2 separate regions of the Homo sapiens genome follow, and region 2 is linked to region 1. The links come from fine-mapping of genetic effects on gene expression. Tissue or cell type: whole blood. Region 1 holds a variant in brackets; the other region holds the start of a gene. All regions are shown on one strand. Distances are from middle to middle.

Region 1 (8,105 bases):
ATAATTTTAGTTGATTTGACCATCATTGGACATAACCCAATGATGTATGCTCAGATGTATGCTCAGAGGTACCTGTTTTAGCCCCTTTATTCTATGTGTGAGACCTGTCAACTGAAAAGTGATCTGAGAATCTCCAGACGATATGTAGGCTAGATTTGGACAATAAGTTTGAAATAGAAACTGAGGGTACTGAATCAAATTAGCCCTTCATTTATGAGAGAAGCAAAATCCCAATTAGGAAATATGACGTATACAATCTTCCATAAAAGAGATTTATGGGTGAGCTCATCCCAGTTTAGCGTTTAGCCGCTAAAGAGGAATGGAGGGGATTAATTAATTAACCCTTATTCCTTGGAGTGGACAAACTTGAATTTGCTTGCCAGCTCTGAGTAGATTACATAACTCATCTGAGCCTCAGTTTCTCCCTCTGTAAAAATGTAATGATATTTATTGTACATGGTTGTTGAAGTTATTAAAGGAGATAACATATATGGAAGTACCTAGTGTGATGTTTGGTTTAGAGTAGGAGCTCAACAAATGCTCCCTCCTCCTCCATTTTTTCTAGGGGAATACAAAGATCTGGGTTGTGCCAGAATGTTAGAAAGCTGTCATTACCAAGTCTGCAAGTTGCCCAGAAAGCCCCTCTAGTTTTTATTTATTTCCTGTATTATTTAGATATTTACTGTTTTCTTGTCATTAAGATAATTCATTGCCTACCCTTGAAATATTGTGGGGGACTGATATCTTTTTCCCTTTTCAGCTGAAGGCTAGTTCAGTGTTTTTTAGCTTCTTTTCAGGCTTCAACACAAAAAAGGTAACAAAAGGTAAGGAGAAAAAAATCCACTCTCCCCAATTCAGCTAGGAACCTATTCAAACTCCCACCGCAAGTCATACTCCCTACCCCAACTGTGTCTCTCTACTCTGGTCAAACACTGGCAGAAGCTATTTTGGGTCTCTGGTATGCATTTGGGAAATAGTCCATTCTTCTCCCATAGTTGCCTGTGGGTGTTTTTCCTGGGACCTAGTTCTTCCTGTTTCTCTCAATACCTGCTCCACAAGTTTCTTCAGCTATCCTGTGCTAGTGACCTATTGCCGAACTAGGGAAGCACCATTGGTTCTCAGAGATGGCTCCAAACTTTTGAGCCACACCCAAAGAGGAATGCTTCAGGTCAAAGCATTCCCAGGCTGTGTACTCACCCAGGCTCCCATTCATCAGTAATTTGACACAAAAGGCCCCTGGCTCATCTCTGATCTAGGAAGTTGACTACTGTGTTGACCTAGTGACCAAAACACTTTCAAGTTTAGTATTTATTTATGAATTATTTACCTACGACAAAATCTTGATGTGTTTAATACTTTGTAGATAGAACAGGTTTTGCTTCCAGTGGGGGATGAATTTCATCTACCAAAATATGATACTTGCTTTTAGAAAAAATAATCTTACAGTGCAAAGGCTTTCTGTTTGCTGATAGTTAAGCTCATGCCATATTTAAGTGTCCAGGTTCTCTTTGGGTTGTAACAATTTAGGAAGGACCTTGAGTAAAAATCCTTAAAATAAGATTATTAATCTCATGCTACTTGTAATCCAAGCGGAGGTGCGTGAACATCATTTGCCAGCCAAAATCACACATAGTCATGTGCTGAATAATGACATTTTGATCAACAACATATAAGACAGTTGTTTCATAAGTTTATAATGCTGTTTTTGTTTTGTTTTGTTTTTTTGAGATGGAGTCTCACTCTTGCCCAGGCTGGAGTGCAGTGGTACAGTCTCGGCTCACTGAAACCTCTGCCTCACGGTTTCAAGCAATTGTCGTGCCTCAGCTTCCAAGCAGCTGGGATTACAGGCATGCACTACCAAGCCTGTAATGCCATATTTTTAGTGTGCCTTTTCTATGTTTAGATATGTCTAGATACACAAACACTATTGTATTACAGCTGTCTGCAGTTGCCTATGGTACAGTAACTTGCTGTACAGCTTTGTAGCCTAGGAACAATTGACTGTACCATACAGCCTAAGTGTATCATAGGCTGTACTATCTAGATTTGTGTAAGTACACTGTATGGTGTTCACATAGTGATAAAATAACGTAACAACTCATTTCTCAAGATGTGTCCCCATCATTAAGTGAGGCATGACTGTTCTTGTATGATTAAGAACCTCCCACCCACCCACCATCTCCTCTGCCCCGATTTGTGTCTGGAGAGTTCTATTTAGCATCCTGTAAAGGGGTTAAAATTCCTTAAAGCAGAGTTCTAGGTTTAAAAAAAACCCAAGACTTTCACATATGAAAGTCTATAAAACATGTATCTTCCCTTTTTCTCCCCTACTGTTTGGCTTGGTGTTAATATTTAATGAGAAGATAGAGGTATTTGTACCTGGTTTCTCCATTTTAGAATTTAGACAGGAAGTAAACACTAGAAAATAAAGTGTGCTAAGAAGATTATAATATTAGTAATGGGGATAGTGGGAAGTCAGTGGGAACTAGAATACAGGTTTTTTTTTCCTTTCGTTATTTGCATTTCATTAACAATACAGAATTTTTTTGTCTTCTCTTTGAGACAAGGTCTTACTCTGTCACCCAGGCTGGAGTGCAGTGGCACAGTCTCAGCTCACTGCACCTCTGCCTTCCATGCTGAAGCAGTCCTCTCACCTCAGCCTCCCAAGTAGCTGGGATTACAGGCACATGCCACCACACCAACCTGATTTTTTTTGTATTTTTAGTAGAGACAGGGTTTCACCATGTTGCCCAAGCTGGTCTGAAACTCCTGGGGTCAAGCAATTTGCCCAGTCAAAAAGTTTTTAAAAAGACAATAATCTAATAACAGGCACAAGCCAATTGGTTCAGATCCTTATTAAACCTCACTACTAACTAGGGAGTCACTGCATCCTTCTGGGACTCCTGTTTTTGTTTGTGGGTTTTTCTGTTTGTTTGAGACAGGTTCTTGCTCTGTCACCCAGACTGGAGGGTAGTGACACAGTCTCGGCTCACTGCAGCCTTGACCTCTCGGGCTCAAGTGATCCTCCCACCTCAGCCTCCTGAGTAGCTGGGACTGCAGGTGCATGCCACTATGCCCAGCTAATTTTTGTATTTTTTGTAAAGACAGGGTTTTGCTATTTTGCCCAGATTGGTCTCCATGTTTGTCTGTTTCATCTGCTGAGATCATTCTACTTACCCAAATGCTGCTTTGCTATTTAGCTGCTTGCTAACAAAGCATTATCTCTGTGAACAATAGTTACATTTTCTTATTTGGGAAGACTCAGCTTGAGAAGAACTTGCTGTTAATTTCCCATGTAACTGTGAATAAATTGTTCAACCTCTAAAGGACTTTATTTTCTGTAAGAGCATGGTGAGGATTAGCAGTTTCTATATAACTCTTTTTGGAGATTTGAAAAAATTAGATAAAATTTACTTGAGCTGGGCACAATGGCACAGGTCTGTAGTCCCAGCTACTCAGGAGGCTGAGATGGGAGGATCACTTGAGCCCAGGAGTTTGAGGCTGCAGTGCACCATGATTATGCCTCTGAATAACCACTGTACTCCAGCATGGACAACATAGTGAGACTCTGTCTCTAAAATAAAAAAATAAAAATTACTTGAGACACCTTTCCTCACACACATACATAGGTAGATAGTTTCACCAGTACAAAGGAAAGTTTGGAAATGGCCAGTGCATGGAACTATTTGAATTATCTGGCAAACTTGAGCCAGGGAAATGGCAGGAACCTAGATGTATGAAATAAGAAGTAAAAGAGGCTTGTATCTAGGATTGAGGAGGATGGAGTGTGTGCCCAGTAAACCCATTTCTGTGATGTCATAGGAAAAACATCATAAATATACTGAAAACAGTGAAAATGTCAAAATATATAAAATTGGGAAAGTGGACATAAAGAAATGAAGACTTAAGGCCATGGACAGTGGCTCATGCCTGTAATCCCAGCACTTTGGGAGGCCAAGGCAGGAAGATCACTTCAATCCAGGAATTCAAGACCAGCCTGGGTAACATGGCGAAACCCCGTCTCTACAGAAAATACAAAAACAAAATTAACCGGGCGTGGTGGCACATGCCTGTAGTCCCAGCTGCTTGGGAGGCTGAGGTGGAAGGGTCACTAGAGCCTAGGAGATTGAGACCACAATGAGCCACGATCACGCCACTGCACTCCAACCTGGGCGACAGAGAAAACCCTGTCTCAAACAA[ACAAC/C]AACAACAAAGGCTTAGAGAAAAAAGTCAGAAGTGGGAATCAGTGAACAGTGGAGTAAGACTATGTGGCAGTCAACAAGCAATCTTTTTGAACTACCTCGCTAGGGATTGTTGGGGAGAACTAGGAGACTCACAAAAGAGAAAAATGAAACCAAATGTATATTTGTGATATATCTGTCTCACAGAGCACCTCTTGTGTGCCAGGTATTTGATGTCTGTCTTCTCCTTTAATCTTTGCAATTGCCCTTTGGAGTAGGTAGATTTCCTCTTTATAGAGGATGAAAAGGATCACCCAAGCTAGCGAGTTGCAGAGCTGGGATTTTAATCCAAAACCTGGACTGAGCACATGCATTAGCTGGTACAAACTGCATTATGAAAACATTTCTAGGTGCAAAATGGCAGGAGTGAAGATGGAGCACCTCTAGACATAATATGGGATGAACCAAAATCTAGTTTGAAAATGACTTCCAGAACCTTTGACAGGTTTGCAACCTTCTTATGATAAACATTGGTTTATTGTAAGGTTCAAAAGTGTTGGGAATAAGTGCTGAGGACTTTTGCAAGTATTCTCTGATTCATATATATTCCTCACCACCTCACATACCAAGTGAATCCCAATATTTCACACCTGATTTTACATAGTTCTTAAATTACCACTATTTTGTGTACCTCCTTGCCCCCCTTTATTGTTGTTAAAATCAATACGTTGTGAAGGCAAATATACCACAAAATTTAAAGTATCTATAGTTTGAAAGATGAAAATAGCCAGGTGTGGTGCCCCACACCTGTAGTCTCAGCACTTTGGGAAGCTGAGGCAGGAGGATTGCTTGAGCTCAGGAGTTCAAGACCAGCCTGGGCAACATAGTGAGACCCTGTCTCTGAAAAAAAAAAATAGCCAGGCTTGGTGGTGCATGTCAGTAGTCCCAGCTACTCAGAAGGCTGAGGTGGGAGGATCCCTTGAGCTCTGGAATTTGAGGCTGCAGTGAGCCATGATTGCACCACTGCACTCCACCCTGGGTGACAGAGCAAGACCCCATCTCTTTAAAAAAAAAAAAAAAAAAAAGAAAGAAAGAAAAAGGAAAACAGGTTCCCTGACTACAAAGAATCAAACTCTAGGTGTTAGAAAAGATCTCAGAGGTCTAGTTAAATCTCTTTCAATAGAGGATTTATTTCTGCAACATCCCTGACAAGCAGCCTCTCCTTGAATATCTCTGGTAGCAGGGTCTCATTTTCTAAGATAGTTTTTTTCATTGTTAGACATAGCTATTAGAAAGTTCTTTCTAAAATTGAACTAAAGACCAAACTATTTGTAAGACTTACTCCTTAGTTCTGTGGAGTTACAAAGAACAAGCTACCCCCTCATTACATGAGCTCTTGATACCTGAATTCAGCAGTAGGAAGTAGTTCCCTATTTCTATAGAATTAATCCCTGGTAAAGTCTTGGCTGCACTTGAATCTGTCAATATCATTTTGAATTCAGTCTGCTGTTTCACCTCTTTCTTGCCTCATGTTATTTGTAAAGATAAGCATGCCTTGTATTTTGCTGTCTTCATACTGGGTCTGAACAAAAAAGGCCAGGCAGGTAAGGTCAAAGCCGAGTCAGAGCCCACAGGCTGCTGCTAGAGAATATCTCAGGCCCCAGTCCTGGGAATTATTCTTGCTAGAGTGACATACATGTTGTTGTACAGACAGTCCCTGGCTAACAATGGTTTGATTTAAGCCCATCATAAATGGGAAATATTGTTTTCAGGAAGTAACCCCATCGTAAGTCAAAGAGTGTCTGTATATTATGAAAGGTCAGGTGAGAAGATGAGGAAAGGATAACAACAGCCTTCCTGCTCCTGTGAACTGTTTCTGCAGTAGGAAGGAAGTCCATGTTGTGGGAGTGAAGGCATAAGTCAGCCTATTTTGTAGTTTTGCCTAGGGCTCGGGATCTTCATATGCATACATGTAGTGAAAAGCAAAACTGTGTTCACATTTGTGTTTTATGTTCTAATGTTTCTGTGAGCATCCATCGATTGAAGGAGAAAGGAAGAAAGTGAACAGAAACTTGCCAGGTGGCAAATGACAAGCAGATTAGGATACAAAATATTGATACTTGACTTGTGAACAGCCAAGATGATATATTGTTGTACAGTGAACACTCGTATACATATGGGTTGTTTATACTTTTTGGCAATGATGATTAATGCTGGTGTGAACATTCATGTACAAGCTTTTGTATAGAAGAAATAAGTTTTCATTTCTTTTCAGTTATATCTGGGGTAGAATTGCTGAGTCATAAGGTAACTGTTAACTTTTTGAGGAGGTGCCAAACTGTTTTGCAGAGCAATTGTACCATTTTCCATTCCCAACAGCAGTATATGAGGGTTTAGATTTCTCCATGCCCTCACCAACTCTTATCTTTTTAATTGTAGGTTCATAATTTTTTATTATACTCCTCCTTCTCCCATCAACTCCACTTTGACATCAGACTCCAAACCATCACATCAGTGTAGCTCTTTCCAGCTCACTTTTGCTAAGTGATTTGGATCGCTAGCACTCTGACTCTGATTTCTTACTTATGAGGAGAGTTAGTTGATCTGGGTTTGTAGAGTTTCAAAATGGCATCACATTGTAAAGTTTAAGAACTTGGATTTTAAAGTCAAAACTGGATTCAAATCCTTGCTGCCCTACTTAATATTTTTGTGCCCTTGGGCAATTCACTTTAGAACTTCTCTGAGCTTCTGTTTCCTCATCTATAAAATGCAGATAATACCTTCTACCCTCTTGGGGTTGTTGAAATGAATTTGCATAGTAGGCACTGATTAAACTGTTGCTGTGGCTGCTATTTTTTAATCTGTTCTACTGGTATGTATGAGCCATGTTTAATATCAAATAAGATTCCTAAGAAGCCTGAAATTTGTAGGCTAAGAGGTTGTGTGGTAGCCTGTGGGACACATGCAGAGATCCCACATGTGTCTGCTTTTATCAAGATGTAGGCTGGTGACCACCACCCTGCTCCCCTCCCTGCCACCCAACAGTCCTTAGTTGAGGAGAGTAATTTCCTGCCAGATATAACCTTTCCCTTAAATCCCAAGAGACCAGCACTTTGGAATGCGGCTTTAAAAAAGTCTCTGGCCCCTCTCTGGTAAAGAGAGAGAATGATGAAACTATCAAACACCGAAAACACCACAGAAGAGTGGGCTAACATAGGACAGTCACGAAAAGACATTATGTTAACATTATCTTATGGCATTTTGTGAACTTAAATTTTGGTGGAAAATCAATTCTAGGGATGGGACCTGTTCCTGATCACGTACTCTGGGCAGCAGATGAAAGGAAAAGGCAGAGTCACAGAGAACTTTGACCCTAGTTATCCATCAAAAGTAGGACTGCTTTCTCATTAGCCTGTTCAGTCACTTCAATAACAGGAAGAGTTTCAGCATAAAAGAAGGCAGTATAGAGACTCCTATCAAGGATAAAGAAGAACTAAATAGAGTTTAGTAACATCGTAAAAAGGGTAAGACAATGCCTTTTAAAAAAATCCTTGTTTCTTAGAAAAGCAGTGGAGTTTAGGATATAATTATTTATTGCATAATTATTGGAAGGGAGAATGTTTATGATGCTGCAACATAAAAATTACCTTAAACACAGAAATTCATTATATTCTTTAAAAGTTTGTTTACATATTATAGATGTGATTAAAAAGAAGAAAGAAAGGAGATAGTTTTAGATGTGTGAGTTTGTTCTGGCATTTTTATTCTTTTAGTATGAAGTCCCTTGAGACTCACATGCTGGTGTTAATGTTAAATGTATGCTACCTGAGTGATAGTACATTCCCTGTTGGGATGAGAGCTACCCATCTGCCCTCTGCCTGACAGAGAGGTTTCCATTCTAGGCACCAGAAGCTAGACATATGT
Region 2 (8,092 bases), 230 kb before region 1:
AAGGAATGCTTCCACCAGGAGACCCAACAACATTTCCATTGAATTGGGAGTTGAGGTGGTCACCTGGCCACCTTGGGTCTTTCATGCCTCTGAATCAACAGGTAAAGTGGGAAGTTCCTCTACTGGCTGAGGTGACTAATCCTGATTACTAAGCAGGAAATTCGGTTGCTACTACAAGATGGAGACGTATTAATGATAGGTAACTTTATATTGCAGTATTAAGTTATAAGACATCAAAGGTGGAGAAGAAACATCACTCAAGGACTTTGCATCCCCTTGGGAAAAGTGTTGTTATGTTTTCAATAGTATGCAGGATAGTTATATCATGTTAAGTGAAAGTATGACTTTGTTATTGTCTTTAAATTTTTTTTTTTTTTGAGACATAGTCTCACTCTGTCACCCAGGCTTGAATGCAATGGCATGATCTTGGCTCACTGCAACCGCCGCCTCCCAAGTTCAAGCGATTCTCCTGCCTCAGCCTCCTGAGTAGCTGGGATTAGAGGCATACGCTGCCACATCCGGCTAATTTTTGTATTTTTAGTAGAGATGGGGTTTCACCATGTTGGCCAAGCTGGTCTCAAACTCCTGACCTCATGATCTGCCCACATTGGCCTCCCAAAGTGCTGGGATTACAGGCGTGAGCCACTGCGCCCAGCCAAAGACTTTTTTTTTTTAAGAGATATGGTCTTGCTGTGGTACCCAGGCCGGAGTACAGTGGTGCGATCATAGGTCACTGCAACCTTGAACTCCTGGGCTCAAGGGATCCTCCTGCCTCAGGCTCCCCAGTAGCTAGGACTACAGGTGTACACTCCCACACTGGCTAATTAAAAAAAATTTTTTTTGTAGAAATGGGGTCTCATTAGGTTGCCCAGGCTGGTCTTGAACTCCTGGGCTGAAGCGATCCTCTTGCCTTGGCCTCCCAAAGTGCTGGGATTACAGGGTCCCTGGTGTGTTATTGTCAGCCTTTAGAGATCAAGTATGGTTAAGGAGATGTGTAGGAGTGTGATTGCTGGGTCATCGGTCTTAATTTTAGCTATCCTAATGAGAGTGTTGTGGTTTTAAATGGAAAAATCCCTAGTTGACTAAAGATGTTGGTAATCTCTTCATTGCTTATAGGCCATTTTTGTATCTTGTGAACTATCTACAAGATATAAAAAAAGCCTTTGCCCATTGGTTTATTGGGCTGGCTTATTACTCATTTATAACAGTTCTTTATGTATTCTGGATACAAGACTTTTGTCTAATGCTTTCTATTGCAAACTCTCCACCTGTGGCTTGCCTTTTCATTTTCTTAATGTTGTCTCTCAAAGAGTACCAGTTTTTAATTTTGATAGAGTTCAACTTATCAATTGCTTTCTTTTTTTTTTTTTTTTTTTTGAGACAGGGTCTCACCCTGTCACTCAGGCTGGAGTGCAGTGGCGCCATCTCAGCTCACTGCAACCTCCGCCTCCCAGGTTCAAGTGATCCTCCTTCCTCAGCCCCACAAGTTAGCTGAGACTGCAGGTACGTGCCAACAAGCCCAGCTAACTTTTGTATTTTTTGTAGAGATAGCATTTTGCCATGTTGCCCAGGCTGGTCTTGAACTCCTGAGCTCAAGTGATCTGCCTGCCTTGGCCTCCCAAAGTGCTGGGATTACAGGTGTGAGCCAGGCCATGAATCACTTTTTATGGTTCATATTTTTTGTGTCCTAAGAAGTCTTTGCCTATCCCAAGGTCACAAATACTTTTTCTATGTTTTCTTCTAAAATTTTCTTTTATAGGTTTAGCTTTTAAATTTAGGTTTATCATCCATTTTGAGTTACCTCAGGTGGCTCCTTCAGTGCTTCTGAAATCTATAAATGCATCCTCCACCAACCTCAAATCTAAGTAAACCTTGCCACCTCCTTCTCCTTCACTCCTCATTCAATTTATTGCCAAGTCCTGTCCATTTTACCACTACATTAGCACTCTTCTCTGTCACTACCCTCCTACTTTGCCTTGACTATGTGGCCAGTGGCCTCCTAACTGGCTTCCCGGCCCCAGCTTTGAGACTCCCATCAGACCACTCTTCACGTTGCTATCTAAGTAACTTAAAAACAGACATAATGGGCTGGGGGCAAGGTGGCTCACACCTGTAATCCCAGCACTTTGGGAGGCCGAGGTGGGTGGATCATGAAGTCAGGAGATTCAGACCATCCTGGCCAACATGGTGAAACCCCGTTTCTACTAAAAATACTAAAAAAATTAGCTGGGTGCAGTGGCGTGCACCTGTAGTCCCAGGTACTAGGGAGGCTGAGGCAGGAAAATCACTTGAACCCGGGAGGCAGAGATTGCAGGGAGCCGAGATCGCGCCACTGCACTCCAGTCTGCCTCTCAAAAACAAAAAACAGACATAATGATCAAGTTATTTCCCCTGCAACCCTGCTGAAAAAAACCTGAATAGCTTCTACCAAGCACTCAGATTAAAGTCCCAAATCCGGCCGGGTGTGGTGGCTCATGCCTGCAATCCCAGCACTTTGGGAGGCCGAGGCGGGCAGATCACAAGGTCAGGAGTTCCAGACCAGCCTGGCCAAGATGGCGAAACCCCATCTCTACTAAAAATACAAAAATTAGCCAGGTGCGCTGGCGTGCGCTGGTAGTCCAGCTACTCCGGAGGCTGAGACAGGAGAATCGCTTGAACCCAGGAGGCGGAGGTTGCAGTGAGCTGAGATCGAGCCATTGCACTCCAGCCTGGGTGACCTGGGTGACAGAGTGAGACTCTGTCTCAATAAATAAATAAATAAATAGGTCCCCAATCCTCACCTGTTCTCGCCTACCTCTTCCCACACTCGCAGTCTACTCCACATTCAATATTCTTTAGCGCTCCCCATTCTGGCCATGCCAAGACCTCACCCCTTGGAGCAACTAACTCCTCCCAACTCAATTCCTCAGATTCTACCCTCTTCATCCTCAACTAAATCAATTCCCCCATAAAGATTCTCTTAGTACCATATACCTCTCAGAAGATTTTTACTAATTGAAAACTTAATTTTGTCTGATTCTCCCATGAATGTTTTCCTTCTCCACCAGATCTCAAACTTCATGAGACCAGGGACTCCGTTGACCCCATATGGTACTCCCAGCTCCTTGAACACGGAAGAAGCCTCATTACATAAGTAATAAAAATAAAATAAATTAGGAAAATGGGAATTATAAAGGGATGGGCTGGTGGCTGCTTACAATCCCTTCAGTGGTAATACCTGGTGCAAAGTAATGAGTCTCTGCCCTTTTCCAAGCAGCCTGCTAGGTGGAATGAAGGAAGGCCTTGCGACTCAAATAGGGAGAACAAACGTGTGATCCAGAGCGGCGGGCAGAAATCCGACGAAACCCCATATTACTCAGGGGCGTTGCTCCTAGGGCGAGGGTGGCTCGGTTCCTAGAGCTTTTTGAGAGGAGGAGCTTACCTGGAGCAACTCAGCACTACCTGCAGCGGCGCAGCTCAACCAGCCCAGAGACCGCGTGGGAAGGCGGGCTAGGGGAGGGGCCACGCCTTCCAGGGCCCATCCCCGCCCCTGCGGCGTGCGCGCGCCCGTCCGCCCGCTCCCTTGCGCGTGCGCCGCCGGCCGGGGGCGGAGGTTGTGGGCGGTGGCGGCTGTGGCGGGGGCGCGCGCGCGCTCGCTCTCTCGCGCCGGTTCGCCCTCCCGCGCCGGGGCTGAGGCGGCGGCGGCGGTGGCGGTGACTGAGGCGGCGGCGGCTGAGGCGGCGCGGGGGGAGGGTCGGGAGGGGGGGGTGGTTGTGGGGGATGGACCGGGTGCGGCGGCCGCAGTGGAAGGAGCAGGCGCTTGAGCTCGAGCGACGGCGCTGGCGGAGACGCCGGCTGCTCCTCCCCTCCCCGCCGGTGAGTGAGCGCCCCCGCCCCGGACGCTGGCGGCGGTCGCGGCCCCCTCACGGCCCTCCGCGGTGGGTGGGGACAGTCGTGAGGGAGCGTGGCCTGGCGGCGCAGCGGACGCGGGCCTGGCCTCCCGCTCGCGGCCTGTCGGGGCTGGGACCTGCCGTCGCCCCCGTTCGAGGTTGAAGCCCCGGGCCTAGGACTCGACCCCCAGCATCCCACGGGGCCTCTTTCCTTTCCCGGCTCATTCCGCTGTCATTTTGACCTGGGGTTCCCCTCCAGCCCCTCGCCTCGTTCCCTTCCCAGCATCCCAGGGCCGAGGTGAGGGAGGGGCGTGTGAGAAGTCGGGCCGAGGCCCGAGGGACTGTTTAGGAGCCGGTTCCCGTCGGAATCTGGGGTTTTAGGAGCCCTCGATCGCCATGGCGTCCCAGAAGTTAGCCACCAGGACTCAGCCATTTCCACCTGAAACCAGTTTTGCACCTATTGTTTTGATTTTGAACTGTCTTTCGAGGGGAGGAGGGAGCCCGGCGTACTGGGGAGAATATGTAGTGGGAGGTGGGATGTGAGGAGGAGCTGGCTGGGCTTGGTCTCGGCCTCAGGATGCCCCCTGTTAACCCCTGTAGGATAGGGGAAAGAGGTGCAGCGAGTTGCACCTTCCCTAAAGGGCCAGAGATTCGTTTATAGCTTGCGAATCTCTGCTTTTTCAGCCTCGGTAAAGGGGTATCATTTGTGGTTGGTTTGGTTCGTCCCTTAACAACATTCTTGGTGAGGAATCCCCAGGTGAATCTGCCACGGAGTGAAGCAGCCCACTTGAGCTGTTGGCTACCCCCGGCCCCCGCAACGCCCGTTGGCTTTTGTGACACGTTACACGTTAGTGTTGGTAGAGCCTAGCCGTCAGAGGTACCTGTACCATAAGCATCTCTACGAAAGGTGTGAATTCCTAAATTAGCTTATTCTGTTCTTAAAAAAAAAAAATCCAGGGCATAAATATCAGATAGCTGCTTTAAAATAAAACAAAACTTTGATTTGTTCCAGGAGGTAGATACATTTTTTTCTCTGTATATTAGGAGATTGAAACTCAAATTGTGAGTAGGTGGTAGTTTTACTAGTGTCATGTGACAAAACGATGCTTATAGATGGGATTTTAACTTAATAACCCTGTCCTCTACCAACAGAGTTGGCTTGTATTTTTTTGCAATCACCCACTCTCTGGCTAGTGTAGAAAGATTAAAAAGCTGCTTCTGGTCTGTGGGTGGTAACCTTTTAATTTCTGAAGAGTTTTGAGCTGCTTATAGATTGCTGATCAGCAGCATAGGAAAATTTTAGACGTTAAAAATTCATTAGCATGTGATGTAGAACTGTTATAATTATGAGCATTGATTAAGATTTGGTATGGTGTAGGTGCTGTGTACTGTGTATAAGAATGAGATTTCTCAGAGCATTTGCATCTTAAGATAAACAGAAGCACAGACCGCTGACAGTGTTGGGACACCTTGCAGAAGGACTCTTTTATGAGCACAAAAGACCTGTAGTCTACAATTTGATGAAGAACCCCAGTGCCCTAGACTAGTTGGTGACCAACCACCATTACTTTAAACTGGGCCTTCTTGATAGTAGAATATTTCCCCTTTTCTGCAAGACTGCTTATGCCTCTCATAAATGTGCAGAACATATAATGGCTCAGGGCTTAGGTTTAAGCTCCTCAGAGTGGCATTTATGGATCATTCATTAATTCATCAAATGTTTATTGAGCCCTTACTTTGTTCCAGGATGTTTTCTAAGTACTGGGCTACATTGTTGGGACAAAACAGACAAGGCCTCTTCCCTAATTAAGCTTTATTCTGTATGTATGGGAATGAGGAATATACAACAAACAAGCAAATAGGATCATTTCAGATAATGATATAAATCAGTGGTTAGTAAGCTTTTTTTGGTAAAGGACCAGGAAGTACAGTACATACCAGGGTTTTTGGGCCATATGATCTCTTTTGCAACTACTCAATTCTGTTTTAGTACAAAAGCAGCCACAGACAGTACGTGAACAAATATGTTTATATTCCAGTTAAACTTGGGACACTGAAATTTGAATTTCATAAAATTTTCACATGTCACAGAATATTAATGAGTTTTTAAAAATATTTTCCCCTAGCCATTTAAAAATGTAAAACCATTCTTAGCCATATAAAACGGGGCAAGGTGGATTTGGCCTATAGATTATAGTCTGGCCTTTTATAGAAAATGTTTGCTGACCCCTAATATGAATTATGAAGAAAATAAAACAAGCTGATGTGACAAGTGAATGACTGAAAGGTGGGTGGAGGGTTACTTAGTGAGAGGAGGCCTCATTAAGGAGAAGGTATTTGAGTTGTGACCTGAAAAATGGTAGCGCTTTCCTGGTAAATGAAACAGTGAGTGCAAAGGTCTGCAGGTGCAGATGAGCTGCTCTTGTTTTCCAGTGTTGAACTTCCCCACATAACATGTCATTCTTACATTTTATGTAAATACATTTTATGTCTTTGTTAGAATGTTGTTCTTCATGTAATAGGATGGTACCTTTCCGTTTCCTCTTCCTGATCCTGCCTTACAGTACCCATGGAGTAAGACTGCAGTGGAGTTGCACCTCATCCCAGGGTTAGGTCCTCAAGTTAGTGCATGAGGCAAAAATCATGTAAGATGAAAACTCTTCTGGAAAATTCCATAAATTGCTCAAAAAGTATGGTCTGCATGTTTTTGTATGTATAGTTGTATAAAATTCTTACGAATATGAAAGGCTGAGAGCCACAGAGCTTGACTGAGGGAAAGAGCAAGAGGAAATAAATTGTTATATAGGTATCTGGGCCTTCAGACTGTTTGGCTTTTTAAAACTGCTCTGGAGTCCCTATCAGAGAGTGGGGGATGGTATAGAATTTTGACATGTTCCTGTTTCCATGCAGGGTTTAATTCTATTTTTATGTTAAGCCTCTATTACATTAATACATGCTCATAGATGTGTTGCGAATATTAAACAAGATAATGTATTTGAAAGAGCCCGGCACTTAAGATAGTCAGTAAACATTTGCAGAATTAGAATCTGATTTTTACTTCTTTGGGCTCACATACATACTGTCCTTTGAAAAGTTGTAGAGAACTTAGCCACCTGCTTCCTGTCTATCCATATTGGCATTTCCTGTTGTGGCTCCACTGAACAGCTGTCACTCTCTTTGTCCTTGAGCATTGGTCACATTTTGCCAGAGGTTGGCTTGTAAGTTAAATGGGTATAGGTGTAACTCTGTTAGTTCTGCCACATGACCCTTAAAGTGTTTGAGCACTGCTATTATGTCTCCTATTTAAGTCTTCACTTTTCAGAGCTGAATGTTTTTATTTTTCTTTTTTTTAAAGATATTATGGAGAGAGATGGGGTCTCATATGTTGCCTAGGCAAACTCCTGGCCTCAAGTGATCCCCCTTGCCTTGGCCTCCAAAAGTGCTGGGTTTATAAGCATGAGCCACCATGCCCCAGCCATTTTAATTTCTGTTAGCTTTTTCTTATTTCTTCACCCTTCTGGTTGTTGTGAGCTTAGTTTATTCTTTTTTTTTTTTTTTAACTTTGCTACTCTGAAGTATATTTTAAGGTACAAATTCAAGTTTTATCTCCTTGACCAAATCTTTCCTGATAATTCTAGACCTTCTTTATATTCTTAATATAGTTTTATCTTTACTCTTCAATTTAATTTTTTCTTATTTTTGTATTTTATACTAGTTTCATGAGCATTTGTCTTCACTCTGCGACAACAAGCTTCTTGAAGGCAAAGACCATATTTTAAGTATCTTTTGTGTCCTAGATGCACTGAGTAAAATTCCAGGGATGCCGTTGATCATAAATTTGTTATAATTTTTAAAAATAGACTTTAAAATTTAGATTTACAGAAACATTGCAAAGATACTGCAGAGTTCCTGCCTATCCTACACTGTTTCCCATATTATTAACGTCTTACATCCCTGTGATCATTTGTCTGTATTAATAAACCAGTATTGATACATTATCACAGAGACCATACTTTATCAGGTTTCCACAGGTTTTTTCCTTAATGTTCTTTCACTATCCCAGGATCCCATCCACAATACCACATTACATTTAGTAATTATGTCTCCTTAGCTCCTCTTGGTTGTGACAATTTCTCAGACTTTCCCTGTATTTAGTGACCTTGGCAGTTTTGAACATTACTGGTCAGGTTTTGTTTGTTTGTTTTTTTGAGACAGGATCTCCC

What was found. PIP is the estimated chance that this variant, and not a neighbour inherited with it, causes the effect.
Region 2: it holds the start of TMCC1, and the variant in region 1 is fine-mapped to the expression of TMCC1 in whole blood (TOPMed, PIP 0.98).

What each region holds. Positions count from the first base shown.
Region 1 is chr3:129,656,256-129,664,360 of GRCh38, reverse strand. All of the region lies in intron 5 of TMCC1 (transmembrane and coiled-coil domain family 1), which reads left to right. Among named protein-coding and RNA genes, the nearest start is that of PLXND1, 54 kb to the right of the region's middle. RefSeq lists an enhancer at 5,414-6,241. The variant ACAAC/C (reference allele first, on the strand shown) is at 4,201.
Region 2 is chr3:129,889,257-129,897,348 of GRCh38, reverse strand. It overlaps TMCC1 (transmembrane and coiled-coil domain family 1), which reads left to right and starts at 3,638. Exons shown (of 7, transcript NM_001017395.5): 1 at 3,638-3,855. It overlaps TMCC1-DT (TMCC1 divergent transcript), which reads right to left and starts at 3,478. Exons shown (of 3, transcript NR_037893.1): 1 at 3,422-3,478. RefSeq lists a silencer at 3,381-4,110 and enhancers at 3,472-4,263, 4,264-5,056.